Linked DNA regions of Homo sapiens: region 2 is linked to region 1. A link means that fine-mapping ties the variant in region 1 to the expression of a gene that starts in the linked region. Tissue or cell type: whole blood. Region 1 holds a variant in brackets; the other region holds the start of a gene. All regions are shown on one strand. Distances are from middle to middle.

Region 1 (10,812 bases):
TAATTTAGCTGTAGCTGCCTTAGTCTGATACTCATCTACTCCCAACAGAGCTCTTTATCTCTTTTTCTCTACTATGGTTTGTTCTTCACACTATAGCCAGAAAGCTCTTATATTTTAAATGAAATATAGTAGACACTCAAAACATTTATGAAATAAAGCTACAACTCTGCTTCTGCTAAAAAATATACCCCTCTTCTGTCTTAGCATGAATATCCACCCTAGCTAGGTATCTAGGAGTCATACCTAACTTCTAGAGAAACCACTTTCCTTAAAACCACATCTTTATTTTAAATAGATGGATTGTGGCTGGGCTCCTGTAGCTTTTCCTCTTAGACCCCAGAAATATATCTCCCTTTGGGACTTCCAACAGTTCCCTACATGCTTTTTGAGCATCTGCTAGTTCCCAGCATCAATTTAGGCAGAAGGGATACAATATCCACTGTTCATCTAATAGAGACTAGAGATAAGAAACAACCTGTACCATCAATGAGCTCACAATAACAGGCCACTGCCACTACCACAGTGGCCTCAAGGGACACTGCTTCCCCTTTAATGTTTTGGTCCAAATAAAAGTACATGAATCCTAAAACATTTGCTAAAGGCTCAGGGATAACACAAGGAAAGTAACAGCATCAAGAATTTTACTGCCGGGTGCGGTGGCTCACGCCTGTAATCCCCACACTTTGGGAGGCCAAGGCAGGCAGATCATAAGGTCAGGAGATCAAGACCATCCTGGCTAACACGGTGAAACCCCGTCTCCACTAAAAATACAAAAAGTTAGCTGGGCGTGGTTGCGGGCACCTATAGTCCCAGCTACTCAGGAGGCTGAGGCAGGAGAATGGCGTGAACCTGGGAGGCGGAGCTTGCAGTGAGCTGAGATTGTGCCACTGCACTCCAGCCTGGGCAACAGAGCGAGACTCTGTCTCAAAAAAAAAGAATTTTACTAATCTGGCTTATAAATAACTTCTTCAACTAGTGGACTGCTCCCCCCAAGTCCATCTAGGCACCTCTTTAATGCGTTCCAAACCCAAGAGCACCACTCTCAAAGGTTCCCACCGTCTTGGGCGCCAGTTCTTTACAGTAAGGTAGACAAAGTAATGATCACTCCTTTCTCAAAAGGTAACAAGTTTAGGCTTTACAGTTAATACACTGTAAGCCTGATATCTTGGGGAGATGACTAGAAAAGTCAGAGATTATTTCCTTACCCTCATTGACACTGAAATTAACAAGTCATGTTTATTTCCGTAATGTTTCTCAAATCTGCAGTCAACTTGCTCCCTAGTAAGAAATCCAAGATACCTCTATCCTGGGTTACTTCAACAACCTCCTAACTTACCTCCCTCTACACTTTGGCTGTACTGACGGGAATCTGATCATCTTAATTCCCTGGTGATGATCTCCAGTTGCTTATTTCCTATGGGATCCTTATCATGACTCCCCTCCTTGTTCAGGCATCTACTCATCACTCCAACTACTTCCTTTGCCTCTAAATGCTATGCTCTAGAAGCATAAAAGTTCCTATTTTGGATGTTTCCCTGTGCACAGCTCCCCTGTCCACAACCTTTTGTTAAAGCAGTCCCTGCCGTGCAGACAGCCTTCTCTCTTTTACCTATGTAACTTACACACAAACTTTTGGTATCACCTAGGTGGCTCCCCGCCCATCCCCACAGCTAAATTCATGACTTCGTCAGCTGAGGTGCTCTATGTTTCGATAATACACTGAATTTGCCACATTGCATTACAGTTTCCTACAGTAGATTAGTTCCTGAATGGGTTGTAGTGGACAGGCCTAAACTAAGTTAAGGCAGTGAGAATCTAAGCTCTATTCTGCCTAGATGAATAAATTGGCATGTTATTCTAAGTGCCACTGGGGAACTGGCTTTAGGCAGAAGATAACACTGAGAGTGGCAGATTAGAACAACTAAAACTCTCAGTAAACTATCGCAAGAACAAAAAACCAAACACCGCATATTCTCACTCATAGGTGGGAATTGAACAATGAGATCACATGGACACAGGAAGGGGAATATCACACTCTGGGGACTGTTGTGGGGTGGGGGGAGAGGGGAGGGATAGCATTGGGAGATATACCTAATGCTAGATGACGAGTTAGTGGGTGCAGCGCACCAGCACGGCACATGTATACACATGTAACTAACCTGCACAATGTGCACATGTACCCTAAAACTTAAAGTATAAAAAAAAAAAAAAAAAAAAAAAAACAACTAAAACTACAGCACCAAGAGCTCCCAAACTGGAATCCTAGTTACGTTGGAATAATAATCTTTTTTAGTGATTATTCCCATTTGGATCTGAATTTTCTGTTAATTACTACTAAAAGTAATCTGATAATTTGTGTAACACTGAACCTTTAAACAAGTGCTTCTCAAAAATTGTGACTGTGACCTACAGGTCAAAAAACATTTTACATCAGAACAGATTATCCATAAACATAAATGATTGAAACAAAATCTTCATAAAATGTTATTTACCTTTACAAATATGATCTACCCTCATATTTTCTACTTGTTCACCTTTTATATGCTGGCCCCAATTCACTAAATTGATTTTACAACCCACTAATGGATTATAATCTACTCTTTGAAAAACACTCTTCATAGCCAGTATTCCAGTGACTAACCACCGCCTTCGCTGGATAAAAATCCAGACATTTAATGACACAAAGGTCATCTATGACCTGGTCCCGGCCACTTCTCAGCCTCCTTTCCTACCACTATTTGCAGCCACCCTT[C/G]ATGAGAAACTCCTTGTTATTCTCTGACTATATTACTACTTGGTGTATGATGTTCCCTCTACTATAATGCTTGCCCTCTTTCAAGTCCACTCCTACTTGTCATTCAAATATTTGCTCAGAAGTCACTTTTCTGAGGCCCCAAACTCCACATCACCGTCCAAATGGGCTCAGGCCTCTCTTGTGTACTGTTATTTATAATCCTGTGGGCATACACCTAACTAGTTGCCTGTCTACTTAACTGATCCCTTCATTCAGCCAAACTGCTGAAGCCAGAGATTGGGACTCATTCTTGATAACTCTATCATAAGGCCTGATACAAAATAGGTGCTCAATATATGTTCATTAAATAAGGAGGAGTAAGCTACATCCATGCCATATTCAACTCTCTGGCTGAGCTTTACAAACAATAAACATGGTACCACATGTAGAGATAGGGTTAAGCTACACTACTGAGTATACCAAGCAAAAGAAATGGTCTCCTTCCTCTTCCAGAACTTAAATGCTTATAATGATTGTCAAGAATGTGAGCATATTTCTAATTCATTTCCCACACATTTTATATTCCAATTTTCTGGAATATTTCTAACCAATCCACAGATAGAAAACACCTATAAATTTTCCAAGACTAGCCAAAAGCTGAAAGGTTGCGTTTTTTGTAAAGTGTTGACAGAATTACCCAAGCAAAACTCAGCACTATTCCAATGATCCAATTTCTTTTTTTTTTTTTTTTAGTTAACACATCCATCACCACGTATGCTGTACATTAGATCTCCAGAACTTGTTCATCTTATAACTGAAAGTTTAGACCCTTTGATCAACATCTCTATTTCCCTCATACCTCAGACCCTGGCAATGACTGTTCTACTCTGTTTCTATGAGTTCAATGTTTTTACATTTCAAATATAAATGAGCTCATACGTAATTTTCTTTCTGTGTCTAACTGACTCATTTAGCATAATGTTCTTCTGGTTTATCCACGTTGTCATGAATAGCAGGATTTCCTTTTTTATGGCTAAATACAATTCCATTGTATATAAATATACCACATTCTCTTTATCTATTTATGTGTCGACAGACACTTAGATTGTTTCTGTATCTTGGCTATTGTAAATAAGGCTGCAGTGAACATGGGAATGCAGATATCTCTCTTCAGGATCCTGATTTTGTTTCCCAGAAGTGGTATTGCTGGATCATAGGGTAGTTCTATTTTTAATTTTTTGAAGAACCTTCATACTACTGTTTCCCATAGTGGCTGTACCAATTTACATTCCCACCAAGAGTGTACAAGTGTTCCCCTTTCTCCACATCCTCACCAACACTTGTCATCCCTTATCTTTTTTTATAACAGCCATGCTAACAAGTGTAGGATGATCTCTCATTATGGTTTTGATTTACATTTCTCTGATGATTAGTGGTGCTGAACACTTTTTCATGTATTTCTTCTTTAGAAAAATATCTATTCAGATCCTTTACCTATTTTCAAATCAGATTTTTTGTGTTTTCTTGCTATTGAGTTGTGTGAGTTCCTTATATATTTTGGATATCAGCCCCTTATCAGATATGGTTTGCAAATATTTTCTCCCATTCGGTAAGTTACCTTTTCATTTTGTTGTTTCCTTTGATGTACAGAGCCTTTTAGTTTGATGTGGTACAACTTGTTTATTTTTATTTTGTTTGCCTATGCTTTTCGTGTCATATCTGAAAAATCATTGCCAAGGCCAATGTCAAGGAGCTGTTCCCCTATGTTTTCTTCTAAGAGTTTTACAGTTTCACATCTTACATTTAAGTCTTGAATCCATTCCAAATTCATTTTTATATGGTGTAATACAAAAGTCCATTTTTGTCATTTTGCATATGTCTATCCAGTTTTCCCAATACTATTTATTGAAGGGATTTTTGTTCCTCATTGTGTATTCTTGGTGCCTCATCAAAGATTAGTTGACCAGTTGGGCATGGTGGCTCGCACCTGTAACCCCAGCACCTTGAGAGGCAGGGGCAGGAGGATCACTTGAGCACAAGAGTTTGAAACCAGGCTGGGCAACATCCGGAGACCTCATCTCTACAAAAAAAAATCAAGAAAATTAGCTGAATGTGGTGGTGTGTGCTTGTAGTCCCAGCTCCTCAGGAGGCTGAGATGGGAAGATCACTTGAGCCCGGGAAGTCAGGGCTGCAGTGAGCCAAGATTGTGCCTCTGCACTCCAATCTGGGCGACACAGCAAGACCCTATTAAAAAAAAAGAAAAAAAGATCAGTTGACCACATGACCATACATGCATGGGTTTATTTCTGAGTTCTCTATCCTGTTTTATTGGTCTGTGTGTCTATGTTTAAGTTGTACATGCAAAACAGTATGGTACATAATGTTTTGATTACTGTAACTTTGAATGTAGTTTGAAATCAGCAAAGGTGATGCCTCCAGTTTTGTTCTTTATCAAGATTATTTATTCTATTTGTAGTCTTTTGTTGTCCTGTACTAATTTTAGGACTTTTTTCTACATCTATGAAAAATGCCATGGAATTTTCATAGGGATTGAATTGAATGTGTAGATCACTTTGGGTAACATGGACATTTTAATATTATTAATTCTTCCAATCCATAAACATGGGATGTATTTCCAGCTATTTGTTCTTTTTCAGTTTCTTTCATTGGCACCTCATAGTTTTCAGTGTATAGATCTTTTTTTTTTTATACTTTAAGTTTTAGGGTACATGTGCACAACATGCAGGTTTGTTACATATGTATACAAGTGTATAGATCTTTGTGTGTGTGTGTGTATGTAGATTTTTCACCTCCTTGGTTAAATTTATTCTTAAGATTTTATTCTTTTTAATGCTATTATAAACAGGACTGTTTTCTTTATTTTCTTTTGCAGTCCAGTTTTACATTGTACATTCTTCATTACAACAACGGTATAATTATATTGTTCAGCACTCATTACTAAACAGTGAACTACTTAAGAGCACAAACACGTCTAATTCACTTTTCCCACCACCCTGTAAAGAACATGAGGCAAAATAGACATCTATAAATGTCTGTTGAATGAATCAATGTGTTATACTGAGTTCTTCTGCTTAGCTCTGTCTTTTGGACTCACTGACTCCTCCCTTCTCCTGTTTCCTCCTTCTTCATCTAAAAAAGAACTTCCTGCAAAGCTGATTCCCTATTGTTCATGCCTGGGTAATATCTGTACCCTTAAGGCTTTCCTCTCTGTGCTCTTAAATGCATGGGCATAGTGTAGCTCTCCTTTAGTTTCTGGGATATAAATTTGTTAGTTATTGATGTTTTCGTTTTGTTTTCGTTTTCGTTTTTTGAGGCAATTCTCCTGCCTCAGCCTCCCAAGTAGCTGGGATTATAGGTGCCTGCTACCAGGCCTGGCTAATTTTTGTATTTTTAGTAGAGGCGGTGTTTCACCATGTTGGTCAGGCTGGTCTTAAACTCCTGATCTCAGGTGATCCACCCGCCTCGGCCTCCCAAAGTACTGGGATCACAGGCGTGAGCCACTGAGCCCAGCCTTAAATTTGGTAGTTAAATCTGAGATATCTTAATAATAGAAATGGTTTGTGTGCTTACATTTCCAGGAAAGAACTAAACTTTTCTGACATTTTTGCATTCTGTTCCACAACATATCTGTTTAATAGAAAAATAAGATTTTTAATTCTCACAAGTTAAATATTGTACATTACACACAGACACACACACACACATGAACACACACAATTTTCTATCAAAATTGATGTCTTGGGAAGACAAGCCTTGTTTACACTGTGGTTTCATATATACCTTGGTACACCACTGTGTAGCCCAGTACAGGAAGCACACCATTAAAGGGTTTTTCTGCTATTCACTTGAAAACACAAAAGGAGATGAAAACACAAAAGCTGTACCTAGGGATGTCACTGAAGACTTAATGACATTGTCCTGGCTTAATTTCTAACTACTTTTCCGTAAAATGGTTTCATAACCTTTCCTACAATTACTTCTCCTTTTATCCCAGAAGGAATAAAAAGAAAAAGAAGATAGTTCAGTTTCATATGTGCTGCATTTGAGATGCCTGGAAGCATCTGGAGCTTGAGAAAGAGGTTTTTGCTGGAAGAACAAATTTGGGAGTTGTCAGCAATTAAAGCTAAATAAATGGATAGAGTGACTCAGAGTATATATGTAGAGCAAGAGGAGGCTGAGGTCAGGCAGTAGGGAACAGACAGGATAGAGAACTTTTGAAGGAGACTGAGAATTTTTTAAGAGAGGAAAGGGAACCTGCAAAATTCATCACAGTACCCAGCTTGTGTCTTCTTTGTCATAGGAGGCACTCAATAATTAATCAGTTAACTTAGCAAGCATATTTCTCCCTCCAAAGCACTATGCTTTGAAATATTGGAATGACCCCTCAAAGGCCCAAAAGACCAGTTAGAGAGACAGATCATAAATAAGTACAACATAGTAAAACAGATACTATGAACATGGTTGCACCTGAGGCCTACTGGAGTACCAAGAAAGGAAGTGGTCCATGCAGAACTTCTCAAAATAAACAATGCTAGGGCTGAATCTTGAAGAATGATTAGGAACTCATCAAGCATTGGGGAAAGAAATTAGTTTGGAGGGCATTCCATGCAGCAAGATCTGTAGATGCATTGAATTATGAAATGGTATAGAGTGGTTGAGAAATTCCAATTAATTTGGCACAGCAGGGATTTAAGATTTGAGGAAAAAGTAAAGGAAGAGAAGCTGGAAAGCCAGGCAAGACCAGGTTACAAAGGACCCTGTAAGATATGATAAAGTGTTTGGATTTTATCCTGAAGACTAAGGGAAGCCACCAGTATTTTTAAATGGAGAAAAGAGGGATAAGATTAACATTTCAGAAAGATCATTCTTGCATCAGACTGTAAGATAGGTGAGAGGGACAAGATTAGAAGCTGATAAAAAAATAAAAATAAAAAAAAAAAGATTAGAAGCTGGTAAACCAAATAGGAAGCTAGTTAAGGAGTCTAAGTGGAGTTGGAAACCCAGATTAGGCCAAAAACAGGGAAAACCTAGAGAAGCTGACAGAACAAACAGCCATAGAAAAGGTAGAATAGGCTAGACACATTGTATGTGATTACATGAGGTGGAGGAGAAATTAAGAGTCGAGGATAACACCAGGTTTCTGTTTGGGTAGTTGGGTAGAGAAATTCTATTCACATATTCACAGAGAATGAGGATAAGTAAGAGGGGAAGTAGATCAGGAGTTACAGTGATGAACTTGGTTGTAAATATACTCGTGTTAAGGAACTGTCTTGTTAACAATTGTTCTGGAGCTCAGAGGATAGAGGTAAGCTAGCAATTCAAACTTGAGAGTCATACGCACATACATGGGAAATGGAGCAATTGGTTTAGATGAGATTTCTCAGACAGGAAATATAGGGGGAGAAAAAAAAGAGTCCTAGCATAGAGCCAACATACAAAGGCCAGAGAGAGAGAGAGAGAGAGACAGAAAGACAGAGAAAGAGAGAGTAGCCCTCTTAGGGGATTGAAAAGGAGCACTACAACTAGAACACTGCTGTCTCAAAATCCAGAGGAACAGAGTGTTGAAAATGTCAATTTGAGTCTATCTCCCCCAGTAGATTGTGAGTTATTGGGGGGCATACAATAGTTAATTTTGTATTCTCAGAACCTAACGTTGGCCAGGCTCCAGAGTATTGGTTTAAAGACTATCTTTGGCCATTGGACTTGGAAATTAGGACATTCACTATTGACCTCTGATAGAGTTGTCTCTTCAGAGGGGCAAAAGCAGAAACCATAAATACAGCTCAAGAAGTTTGGTGACCATGAAAAGGGAAGACAAGGCAGAGACACATCAGCAACTTGAAAGGGAGTCACATTTAAAAAGTCCATTTTGGGGATTTTTTTTTTTTTGCAAGGTCATTCATTTGTACAGATAGACACTTAAAGGGTATGTGTAAATTGAGGGGAAAATCCAAAATCTTGGGTTGAGAGCAAGAAGAAAGGGAGCTTTCTTCTCATTCCTTATTGTTGCTTCCATAGCTCCTCCATTTTTGTGTAAAGTCCCTTATCTTTTGGGACTCAGGACATTGGTTTTACCACTTCCTGTTAATGGTCTCGGCCTTAGCTGCTAAGGGATAAGGATCCTAGGGCATCTTTTAGCCCAACCGGCAGGAAGTCAGTTGGCAAGGTTGCAGTTTAAGCATGTCTACTTTTCAGGAGAAAGCATGCACAGTATATACTCCACAGCTAGTAAAAAAAAAAAAAAAAAAAAAAAGAATCATTAAATTCGGTCAGAGACCTAACAGGATGGGTCTAGAGAAGATTGAGAGAACATGAATTCAAAACCTGACTGAGTAGTCAATACGGAGCTGGCAGAGATAGAAGCAAATACAGGAAGGTAAAGACCTCTCTAGAGAAGTTCTGCAAACACTCGAGAACAAGATTCCCTTCCCCGTCCCACCTTTTTAATGACAGGATGGTTCATTCATGCTGGGCTAATGGAGTTTGGGGTTGGGAGAAGACAGCTCCTAATCACTCACAGATTCAGTGAAGTCTTAGTCTCAGAGTCTTGCTCACCATCCCAAGACCTGCTATCATTCCATCCATGTGCTTGCCCCATCCATGTAGTTGCTCCATCCAAGTCTCTGGCCCCACTGTTCTACATTGTCCTCACCTCCAGTAACCCATCCAACCAGCCCACTCTGTTTACCAGGCCTCTGGCCCTTTCCTGATGAGATCTGCTTTACCCCTGAAATTTTGCCCTCCAGAATCTCACTCTGTAAACCCAGCTTCTTGTCTCTGGCTCCCTCATCCCCTTACACTCAGATGTTAAACCTCTAACCTCTTGAAACTCCAGTCCTTTGGACTCTCTCTTTTACCCTTTTGTCTACCAGGCCTTTCTTCTTTTTCAACTCAGCCTGGATGTCATGAGCCAACACCACCATTCTCATGCCATGCCCTGTTGAACCCGTTGTCTTTTTCTCCCACCTACATACTAATCACCAGATTCTCTACTCCTGTGCCTTCTTCACTGAACACTCCTAGAAACAAGAAGCATCAACAACCATTGGAATTGTCACCAACAGAGCTGGGTCCTGAACACAACTCAGCAAGCTTGGGTTGTCCAATTCCATCACCTCATTGACTCCTGCAAACTCTCTCCACTTTTTTTTTTTTTTTTTTTTTTTTTTTTTTTTGAGATGCAGTCTCACTCTGTCACCCAGGCTGGAGTGCAGTGGCATGATCTCAGCTCACTACAACCTCCATCTCCCAGGTTCAAGCGATTCTCCTACCTCAGCCTCCTGAGTAGCTGGAACTACAGGCATGCACCAGCACACCTGGCTAATTTGTGTGTGTTTGTGTGTGTGTGTGTGTGTGTGTGTTTAGTAGAGACAGGGTTTTGCCACGTTGGACAGGCTGGTCTCAAACTCCTGACCTCAGATGATCCACCTACCTCGGCCTCCCAAAGTGCTGAGATTACAGGCATGAGCCACCCCGCCGAGCCTTTCTCCACTTTTCTTAAACCCTCTACTTCACCTTCACCTCTGTCAGCACTTAACCTCACTGCCTATTCTGCAAAAAAGAAAAAGGAGTCTGTAGGCAAAGTTCTCTCAATTTCCTGTCCTCGTGATCCTTATCTGTACCCACAAACTAGGCAATTAGTTGAAAGAGTATTTACTGAAGACAATTCACCCAATGACCAAGCTACCCAAAGTCCAATTCGCCAAATTTTCCAAATTTACCAACTTAGAAAAATCTGCTTTTGGACACCAATATCTAATTTAGTGAAATTATCCATTCAAAAATTTGTTTATATCAGCAATTTATAAAGTTTATGGCAATTGTGTTGCATGGAAAAGTTTAACAGCTTTATGGATTCTATTATTTAAGATTTGCAACTGATTTCAGTTTGACTTAGTTTAGTTTTAGTTTTACCAGTTTCTTCATTAGACTCATTGCACAGTGGATTTCAGTCAAACTCCACTGAATGTCAGTTTTGTGTGTGATACACATTTCAGACATTTATGATTCAAATGCCTAAAACAAATAGATAATGCTCATTTGATCAAGATGATAAAAGT
Region 2 (5,000 bases), 20 kb after region 1:
TCTTTTCCATTCTCATAAATTATGAAGCAATTTTATGCATACTCAACACAAGCAGTGTCTTTCTCATCATTAGGATCACTTTTTCAGCCATCTTACATGTTTTCCCAGAACAGATGTCCTTCTCTTCAGTTTAAGCGAAGGGCTTGGGAGAGGACACAGCACAGTTTGAATTCACAGATGATGCAGTCCTTGGAAACTTTATCCTAAGTCACAAGTTTCCTTTGCATCACACTAGAACAGTTGGTTTTTTGCATGCACCCTGCCTGAGTATATTCATGACTTCAAAACATCACTTAATGTAATACTTTTTAAAAATTATATTTCTGTTAACTTTTTTTACTGAAATATAACATCTATATGGAAAAGGCCACAAGCCATCATAAATATTCAGCTCAATGAACTGTCAGAGTGAAACATCCCTCAGGTCCATATAACCACTCAGGTCAAGAAATAGAACATTTTCGGCAGCCCAGAAACCTCTTCCAAGTACTACTGTATTGCTTTTTAAAGCAATCTTTAAAAAGCATATTTTGAGACATCCAACACATGCGATTATGAGGTCATACTACCAGGAATAGTTACCAAAGCTGTGTTAAATTTCTTTGACTACAATACATCCAAAATAGCATTGTTGAGGACATTTCAGGTCAATGGGTCTTAGCCAAACAGTAAAAATAGTTAGCATTTATTGGACACTTACCATATAGTGCCAGGTATATAGTGCTTTATATATATTACATAATTTAATCCTTAGGCCCACTTTATAGATGAGAAAACTGAGGCAGAGACAAGTTAAGTAACTTTCCCAGTGCCACACAGCTTGTAAATAGGAGAGTCTGGACCCCGAGCCAGGGAGTCTGGCTCCAGAGTCCACAAGCTTAGTCACCATACCATACTGCCCTATCCAGTGGTTTGTTGTTCAAAATAAAGTAAATGAGAGCAAACCCTGTAATATGAGAGACCTTGTAAGGACTCAAATATAAGGTTACTCCCTCTTTCCTGAGGGATGATTTTGGAAAAACAAAAAAGCAAAAACTTCACCCTATATTCAAGCTTATACGGCATTTGCAGATGACTCCCAAATATTTATGTCCATCCCAGACCGCTCCTCTAAGTTGCAGACCTACCTACCCAACCAGCACTTCAAAGTCAGCAGCCCCAAGTCACAGTCATCATCTCCTCATACGAACCCCCTGCAGCCTCCTGCTGCTCCTTTTGTGGAGCACAGCCAGCCTCACCACCATCCATCCACCCAGCTGCCCAAGCGCCGTGGATATGATCAAGGACCCCAGTCTCTCCCTCACTCCTCTTCCAAAATCACACTCCCTTCTTCTTCAGCTGAAACTGTGTTCCTTCTCCACAGAAGTTCCTGATTTCTTTGTGCCATTTGTACACATCTCAAGTCCAGAAAACCTGTTTTTCTCACAGTCTACTCGCAGTCCTAAGGAAGAAGGACAGGAGTCAGAACTCTTCCCAGTTCCTTTAAGATTGCTTGCTCTTTGTCTCTGTCTGATTTCCCCTCTCCCCATATTCTCTCCCAAGTTGGTTTTTTGAGCCCCTTCCCACTTCCCTGCCCGGTTTCCTCCTCACTTAATTTTTCTAGGGAGTATATCGTGAGTGGGACCACCATCCCCAAAGCTCTTCTTTCCAATATCTCCCGATCTCTACCCTCAAATTTGGGATAAAGAGAAAGTGGGGGAAAGGGAGCCTGGGGGTGAAGGAGAGAAAAGAGACAGAAATCATGGGATAATGAAAAGTGACTAACAGGGGAGAAGGCCGAGGTTACGATGGAAGAAGGGGAAGAGACAGCGGGTAGTGAAAAGGGCAGGGGTGAGAAAAGGGAATGAGGAGAAGGCGTGAGGAAAAGGGGATGATGAGGTGAGGCGAAAGACACAGGGAGAAGGGGATGGGGAGAAAGGTGGGGAGAAGAGACGGGGAGAAAGGGATAGGAAGAAAAGGATAAAAGGAGAGGTGGGGAAGGAGAATCTGATGTAAAGAGGCTGGAGAGAGATCAAGCAGAAGGGGTAAGGAGAAGAGAAAGGGGAGAAGAGCTGGGGAGAAAATGATGGAGATGGGGCGAGAAGAAGAGGATGGGAGAAAGGCAGAGGGGAATGGAGATGACGGTTGGGAAAAAGAAGGGGCGAGAGGGAGACCAGGGCACTGAGGGAGAAGAGGGGAATAGGGGATGGAAAGAAGATGGAAGAGGAGGAGGTGAGCAGCAGGGAGCGGCGAGAAGGGGAAGAGACGAGAGGGCGTAGAGAACCGAATGGGAGGAGAGGACGGGAGAAGTGACGGGGAGAAGGGAAGGGAACCGGGACGGGGGCGCGGCGCGGCGCTGGGGCCGGATCCGGAGCCGGGGCCTGGGGCCGGGAAGTGGAGGGGCGGAGGGAGGCCGGGCGGGCGCCGGGGGGAAGGGGGGGCGGCGGCGCGGAGCGCGGGTGGGGGCGGGGGCGGGGGCTCCGCGGGCGGAGGGGCGGGGGCTCGGGTTACCGCGCGGAGGGCGGGGGGAGGGGAGGGGAGGGGGCGCGGGGCCGCGGCAGCGGAGCTCGCATCCTCGGCGGGGCGGCTGTGCAGGAGGCGGCGCCCGGGCGTCAGCGGACGGACCGATCGACGGCCAAGGGCGCGCGGACCGACGGCGGCTGCCCGGAGGGGATCGCGGGCCTCGGAGACAGCGACTGCGGACGATGCGCGGCCTCAGGCCCCGCGCGAGCGGGCGCTGCCCGGGGGGCTGACCGCGGCCGGACGGCGCCCCAGCACCGGGCGAGGGAGCCCGCGTCGCGCGGAGGTCAGTGCCCGCGCCCGCCCGGCCCGTCTGGCCGCGCCCGCCCTGCCCGCCGGCCTCCCCTGGGCTGCGGCAGCGGCGGCGGAGCCGGGGGCTTTGTTCTGAGCCGGAGACAATGGGGGAGGGGGGGCCTGGGCCTGCGGGACCCGGGCGGGCGTGAACGTGAGCGTGGGGGCAGGGCCTGGGGGTCTTTGTGTGCGTGTGTCATCGAGTCGGGGAGGGTGGCGGCGGGAGCGTGCGCCGGGGGTGTGGGGTGCGACAGCGTTGTGTTCCAGTGCATCGTCGGAGTGTGTCAGTGCGTGTCACTGGGAGGTTGTGTGTCCCTGGGCGTCTCTCTGGCTGTGTGTGCATGTGCGTGTCACTCTGAGGGTGTGAGGGTCAGAATGACCGTGTGTCATGGTGAGCGAGTCCCTGTGAGGGTGTGTTGCCCGCTCTGTGGGAGCCCATGTGTCAGAATGTGGAGGATGGGTGTGTGACAGAGACCAACTGAGACAGAGACAAAGAAACTGAGTGGGGAGAAGTACAGAGAAGCAGAGGAGAGGCAGGCACAGCCTGAAGTGGATGGAGGGGGGGGTCACCCAGACGTGTTCTGAGTGGGAGATTGGAGCAACTGGGAGTTTGTGTCTGGGATACCCAGCTCAGAATCCCGTGCAGGGGACAGAGCAAGGTCACCGCAGGCGTGGGTCCCACGTGGAGGGGGTGGGGAGAGGGAGGTCTAGAAGCACAATGAACTCAGTGTGGCGGGCTGGGCCCACAGCCACAAGGTCATAGGCCAGAAAAATATTGTCGCTTATGTCAACTTCTCAAATACCCATAGGGACACAGTCATAGCCCTACTCAACCCACAAGAGGACACAGTCCCAGGGAACACACATCCTCAAGAGATACCCTCACAGCCATCATACACTTCCAGGAAGCCCACCCCCAGGAAGCACCCCCAGTCAGAACCAACACACACCTACAGCAGACTCTATCAAGCCAACACACACCTACGGAAAATGCTCTCATGACAACACACACCCACAGGAGAAATGCTGCAACCAACATACTCCCACCGGTTCATTGTCAAGGCCAACACATACCATGGAAGACATTGTTACTGCTAACACTCTCCAGAAACACTGTCACCAGCAACAAACAAGTAGACCAGCACCTCTCAGGAGACATTGTCACTGCAATCCACATCCATCAGAAGCACTGTCACAACTGTCACAGCACATCTTATTAGGTTTACTTCCTTGGAGCTGCCCATACATAGTGGGTGTCCTAGAAGCCTGTCACTAACAGGAGGCTGTGCCACAGTTGCCCTTACCACACAGCCACTTGTACAACCCCCAGGAGACAGTCATGGATGGCATGCACACCACAGGAAGACCTGTCCCAACTTCTGAATAAACTCTGCTTAACTTATCAAGCTCACACCTTCACCCCTTCTCATACGTAGATCTCCCAGGTATACCCTCTTGTTCCCTGAAAACTTCGAGATCTGGATAGTGTATCCTGCCATGGTTTCTCAGTGTCCTTCAACACCACAGCTTCACAGATTCTTGACCTCCTTAGCTCCTGTTACCTTCCTCCCTCCCAGGACCACTCTGTAGAACTATTCCACCTTTAAAATTCTAAACTCTTGCATTCCTCTCTCTACCCACAACCTCCTATATCCTTCCAGCTTTCAGATGTTCTCGCTCCCATTACACTCTTTGACCTCATAATGACCTCTTGCCCTTGACCTCTTTGTTTTCTCCTACTCTGTTCCTTTCTGACTTTGTGCTTTCTTTCCAGCTCATATGCTAAGGATCATCCCTTCAACCACTCCTTGGCCACTGTGTTTCCTTGTCTTCTATACTCATCCCTCAAATTATTGCCCCTAACTAGAATGATTTCTCAACCACACCAGGGGACGCTTCTATAAATTCATACTTCTAAAAAATTCAAACCTCAACTGGGCCCTTCATAAATAAATAGATGATTTTTTTTCTATTTTCTTCACACTCATTACCCCACATCCCTCACACCATTGTTTTCAGTAGATTAATTAATCAAAACGCTAATTCATTCATTTAACAAACACATACTAGGCACCTACTCTGCTAGGCATTGTGATGAGAGTTGGCAGCACAAGTGTGAACAAAATGGACATGGTCCTTATCCTCATGGAGCTTACAGGCTGTGGAGTGAGTGTTGTAACACAGCAGCACACAGCAGAGTAACCTAGGCC

What was found. PIP is the estimated chance that this variant, and not a neighbour inherited with it, causes the effect.
Region 2: it holds the start of DCHS1, and the variant in region 1 is fine-mapped to the expression of DCHS1 in whole blood (TOPMed, PIP above 0.99).

What each region holds. Positions count from the first base shown.
Region 1 is chr11:6,670,137-6,680,948 of GRCh38, reverse strand. MRPL17 (mitochondrial ribosomal protein L17) reads left to right here. Exons shown (of 3, transcript NM_022061.4): 3 at 1-564. Among named protein-coding and RNA genes, the nearest start is that of MRPL17, 7.8 kb to the left of the region's middle. RefSeq lists an enhancer at 7,113-7,162. The variant C/G (reference allele first, on the strand shown) is at 2,753.
Region 2 is chr11:6,653,348-6,658,347 of GRCh38, reverse strand. DCHS1 (dachsous cadherin-related 1) reads left to right here and starts at 2,539. Exons shown (of 21, transcript NM_003737.4): 1 at 2,539-2,785.